Regions from separate parts of the Homo sapiens genome. Here region 2 is linked to region 1. The links come from fine-mapping of genetic effects on gene expression. A gene starts in region 1. The other region holds a variant in brackets. All regions are shown on one strand. Distances are between the middles of the regions.

Region 1 (2,928 bases):
AACTTTCTACAACAGCAAAACTTGTGGAGCCTTGGGAGAAAGTATCACAAAAGATATTTGCTGTTGCAGATACAAATGTCAGAACTGCAGTATGAAACGACATCTAGAAGTTTACAGTCATCATAAACCAGAAAATTGGTAAAACCAAGAAATGTCAGGTTCCAAGATTTGGAAGGGTTTTGGGGAGGACAACTGGGGGCAAGTGATAAACTGAATTTATATTATCAAATTATCATGGAGCTAGGAGTAAATTGTAAAAATAAACTTTGCAGGTTCAAATTCAAAATTGAAGAATTTTCAAAAAGTTGAGGGTATATAAAATCAGGCAGAATCTATAGTGCTATGAGCACTAGACCAGGAATCCGAACACTTGGGCTCTTGCTATGGCTCCAACCCAAACCACCATGTGACCTTAAGCAAGTCACTTGCCTTCTTCAAGCCTATCTCCTTATCTTTAAGGGACGGGAGAACAATGATGATTACTAAGATTCTTGCCGGCCTAACCTTTTAGAAGTCAAAAGTACACAAAGATCAGGAGCTTTCAGGTCGACACAAGAGGTGGAGGGAAAGAGAGGAAAAGAGGGCCACAGAGTGAGAAAACTTGGGAGTCAAGTAACAGCGTTTGTGGGAACAGAAAAGTTTCATGATGGCCAAGTACTAGTAGAGAAGAGCCGATGTCAGGATCTCGAAAAACTACTAACTACTCAGCATATGTCAAAATGAACAGAAAGACGGGGGATGGGAGGACAGATATCAACGAATTGTCTCTGTTAATCAATCAGTAATCGATCTGTCCTGGTAAACAGACAGGAGATCCGAATGCCGCAACCTCGGAAATCACTGTGACCCCTGATGTCAAGGTGTCCGGGAGGCAAGGAACAAGGGGACTCCGTGTCTGCTTCCGTCTAGTGAGAGGATTCGGAGAATCGACGAAAAGTGAGGAAGGGGGCAGAGGAAAGGGGATCTGGGACATGGAGCAGGCTGGCGGAAGGTGGAGTCAATGCCTGACTCCCGCCCGAAGGCAGGCAGAGGGGTCGGTGTCCGGGGCCCGTTCTCACCATCTTGATGATGCCCCGCTGCACGGTGGGGACCGCGGGTCCCCCGGAGGAGCCGCCGCTCTGCGCGGAGGACGCCATGTGTGGAGATGCAAAGGCAACGAGTGGAGCGGCTGGCCGGACTGGAGGTGTCAATGTGGGTGTCGGTGTTGGTGAAAGGGAGTCGAGGCGAGGGGCAGGCTGGCTACCAGCTGCGGACGGTGGACGGGACGGACTCGCCGGGCGCTCACAGGAGCAGCAGCGGGACACGGAGCGAAAGAGACGCGATCTCCGCCGCCGCCACACGTTCTACTCGCCGCGCAAGCGTGCCAGAGCGCCACCGCCCTCCGCCCAATTAGCGCCCAGAGCCCGCCGGCCCTCAGGCCAATAGGCACCCTGCTCGCGGAGCCCCGCCTCTTGGTCCCCAAAACGGTGGTGAGTTCCAGGAAGCGCTGAAAGAGTTGATTTGCAAGGATGGGCTAAATATGGGGCGGGACTTCCGGGGCAGCCGGAGTAGGTAATGTCGGGAGGTGTAGTGGGAAGGAAAGGACACGTCAGCATCTGGCCGCGGGGCGCGGGGGGCCATGGGAGCCCCAGGGGCGGAGCCAGCCGCGCCCTCCCGCCTGACCTCGCCCATGACGTCCTTCCCCGCTGGCCTCAGGGGCGCACACTTGTATACCCACCTAGGTGGGCGCCGCTGTACCCGGGAATGCGGCCTGGGAGGGTGGAGCCACGCAGGCAGAGTCCTGGAGGAATCTCCGTACCCGCTCCACTCGACTTCCGACATTTTACCTTGGCTAAAAGTATGGAGAGAACTTGGAAAATCAGAGCTTTGTGGAACCTCCTACCGATGTGGGCTTTGACCTGCCACGCGGCCGCGCGCCCTTTTTGTAGTCAGAGAGTGTGCCTCGCCCTTGTTTGTGTCGCTGGGGTCTAGCACTTGTGAGGCGTTCCATTAATGTTTGTTGGTGGGAGGAATAAATGTCTCAGAGGAAGGACATGCCACGTATACAGGGGAGAGTGACCCTCGTTCTTCGGTCTCTTCCCAGCTGCTCCCGTGACGTTAGGGAAAAGGCTCGCTTCACGCTCTCACCCGACCCAGTGTGAAGCGCCTCCAGCCACCGGATACCTTCCCTAGCCCCAGTAAAAAGGTCGGGGAAGGAACGGGAAAGCCAAGGCCTACAAATATTTAAGTGACTGTTTAGCGAGAACTAATATTCGTTGAGTGCCCACTATGTGGAACCAAGGACCTTGCATGTGTTATGTCATTTAATCGTAAAACTTGGCTCTACACTGAAGACAGTACTTCCCTTGCAGTTCTTTTTGTTTCTTTGGTTTTGTGGCTTTTTTGAGACAAAGTCTCGCTCTGTCGCTCAGGCTGGAGTGCGGGGGCACGATCACGGCTCACTGCAGCCTTGACACTCCCAGGCTCAAGCGATCCTCCTGCCTCAGTCTCCGGTGTAGCTGGAGCTGGTACCACGGGTCCGCGCTACCACGCCCAGCTAATTTTTTTTTTGTAGAGCTGAGATTTCACTATGTTGCCCAGGCTGGTCTCCTGGGCTCAAGCTATACTCCTACCTCGGCCTCCTAAAGTGCTGGTATTACATGCATTAACCACAGTGCATGGCCCCTTGCTCTCTTAAAAGATTGTAAGTTTATTCTCCCACACTAAACATATCCCAGGGTTAAGTTTTGAGGTCACCTTCTTAGATCCCTAATTTGCCACCCTTTTCCAAAAAAAAAAAAAAAAAAAAAAAAAACCTCTGTGGAAGTTGGTTCCATCAGATTATACCCCTCTCTATCTCGTGGCTTTTTATCTACCGTACCCCTATTTCTACCGTGTCATTCATTGAAATTGTTAACACTTGGTGCACGGTCTTCAGCCAATAATCCT
Region 2 (2,500 bases), 320 kb before region 1:
TTTTTAGCCCCTGTCACAGTGTGGCAACAGTGCACCAAAGCACCAGGATTTCAACTGTCATGCTGGACACAAAGCTTCAGTTGAAAAGAAGGAGGGCAGTGAGGGAGAAAATCAGGTACCCAACAGACCCGCATCTGGTCTTTATTTTTGCAGCCATGCAGGAGGTATTAACTTGTGCCATCAGGCTGTGCCTGTCTTCCAGGGAGAGGAAAGCTGCTCCAGTGTGCTCCGCACAAAAGAAGGACAGCACCAGGATGGGAAGCTTGCCAGAAATCAGGATTTCTAATAAGGGTGGGGCAGGGGAGGGAGTGGCGAGGACTGATTACGGAGAGGAGGAGTAAACTTCCTGAACACAGCTCTCCACAAAGCACATTCCCCGACCAGGGTTCCTGGTGCCTGTGACAGCCAAGGGGTGTGTGTGAGCTTGTGCACTTGTCTGTGCTCACTCACCCAAGGAAATAGGGTGGGGAATAAGAGAGGAAAGGAGAACAGGGTGGAGGAGGGGCTAAGGAAACCACAGTGGCCATCTCTGAGGGCTGAACTCTCATGTATAAGCCCATGGTGGGACATAGCAACTGTCACAATGACCCAAATCAGAAACTGGTATTTGGGAAGAACGTAGGAAGAATGCTGAATGGAGCCGGACCTGCCTACTAACAGCCATGAGCACCTCTGTGGGGGTGTCAGAGTGGAGTGGAGCAGAGAGAAGAACGGGGTAGCGTGCTCGGCGCTACAGCGCACAGAAGAAAGTCTCATGCCAGGGCAAAAGAGAGGAGCCACCCCTTCTGTAGTGATCTGCCAGCCTCACACCCTTCACATGTCTTCCAAAGCCCCAGGCTGGCTGCCTGCTCTGCTCCCTTTGTCCATCCTGCCGACTTTGGTAGATGCTGGCTTGTTTGTGCCTTTTCACTCACTTTGGTTCCTTGTTCCCTCTCCACCATATCTTAATCCTGCTCTCTGTCAGGCCATTCTTGTGTAGTATCACAAGCAGAAAGAAACTTAGCTGAAGCCTTTTACTCTGATTGCTGGCTGCTCTGGGGTGCAAGCAGAGGGGAGTCAATCTCTCTTACACACACACACACACACACACAC[ACACACACACG/G]AGGGGAGTCAATCTCTCTTACACACACACACACACACACGAGGGGAGTCAATCTCTCACATACACACGCGCGTGCGCACATGCGCGCGCGCCCACACATACAAACACAAGTAATGCTTCTCCTGAGTGTCTCCCTACTACACTCAACTCAATACTGGGGTGTAAACAAGTGGCCTGCTCAAAAACACCTAAATTAATGGAAAAACGATGCGCTGCACGTCCTTGTAGGGAAATTTGGGGAGTCTGAAAAGCTGTATGGTTTGTGTGTGCCTCTTTTGTGTAACAATGTATTTTGGTTTTCATAGTTTTTATCATTAAAGAAATTGTATGTCCTCTAAAAATATAAAACAAAACAAACAAAATCAAGTGGCCAGTCACAAATAGGGCTTTTTCTCTTTGGGTAACTCCCTCTGCAATTCACAAAGTGCCTGGACACTCTCTGGCCCAAATGGATCCCCCCAGGTCTGAAGGCAATTAGATCTCCTGACACAAGATGCTCTTCAGCAATACAACTCAAGACCCAGGGGACAAAGGAAGATGGCCTTTTCTTTCTCAGTCAACCATCCTAGGGAGACACCAGCTCCTGAATGGCAAAGAGGACAGCTGTCAGCAAAAGGGCGGGGGAGCGGTGAGGCAAATTTCACAGCCTAACAGCCAAGAGAAAAACAAAAACAAGAGAAGTGTTTCATATGGAGGCTGTCTCCCCTAATGTCACTAAACTGGAAAATCCTATATTCTTGAATTCACCCACCCTTAGCAGACAGCTGTTCATGCCTGAGTCAGGAGGAAAGGTGAATGCTTTGGAAGGGGAATTCTCCTAGACAGCCTGGAATCTGAAGAAGCTCAATCACCTAAATAATGTCAGTATTTTGGACCGGCATAAAAAGTGGGCTCATTTCTGTATCTCCTTGGAAACCAAATGGCTCCCGAGGTAGTGAATGAGAGAGGGCAATGAAATCGCTGCTCCAAAGGGAGCCCAGGCCAACCCCCCAGCAAGCAACTCTGTCTTCTATTTGGTATTTCCAGGGCAGACAAGATCAAAGAAGGAGCATGAACGAATCTTCAAGTACCAAGTTTGATCCAAACCACTCCAAATTCACCTTGCGTGGATGGAGATAACGGGCATTTATAATCTGATGGGACCCTAACATTCTTACTTCTCTTCACCAATATTCTAGCTGAGATGCTGTATCGTATTAAATCTTTGTGGATGAGTGATGTGGTTTAAAATACTGCAGGCTTTGGCTGCCATTCCCTTCCCTGGGGTCTCAAAATAACTCCACACAAATCATTTTTGCTAAACACTCACTCAGGCAGCTCTTCCCTGCCAGAACACACACATCTTATGTAAGTGAAGAAGCCACCTAGCTTGCTGGAAGACAGTAGCACTCCCAGAGA

Alleles and levels. Alleles are on the strand shown, and positions count from the first base shown. SD is a standard deviation of normalised expression in the study named.
For the expression in monocytes of the gene that starts at base 1,316 in region 1, allele ACACACACACG in region 2 goes with a higher level than allele G (moderate effect, 0.55 SD a copy in BLUEPRINT).

The links.
Region 2: its variant is fine-mapped to the expression of SND1 in monocytes (BLUEPRINT, PIP 0.95).

What each region holds. Positions count from the first base shown.
Region 1 is chr7:127,650,582-127,653,509 of GRCh38, reverse strand. SND1 (staphylococcal nuclease and tudor domain containing 1) reads right to left here and starts at 1,316. Exons shown (of 24, transcript NM_014390.4): 1 at 1,059-1,316. The coding sequence starts at 1,136. It overlaps SND1-DT (SND1 divergent transcript), which reads left to right and starts at 1,678. Exons shown (of 2, transcript NR_186577.1): 1 at 1,678-1,837. RefSeq lists enhancers at 1,098-1,277, 1,102-1,720 and a silencer at 1,518-1,767.
Region 2 is chr7:127,974,027-127,976,526 of GRCh38, reverse strand. The region is part of intron 15 of SND1 (staphylococcal nuclease and tudor domain containing 1); the gene reads right to left. Among named protein-coding and RNA genes, the nearest start is that of SND1-IT1, 22 kb to the left of the region's middle. The variant ACACACACACG/G (reference allele first, on the strand shown) is at 1,093.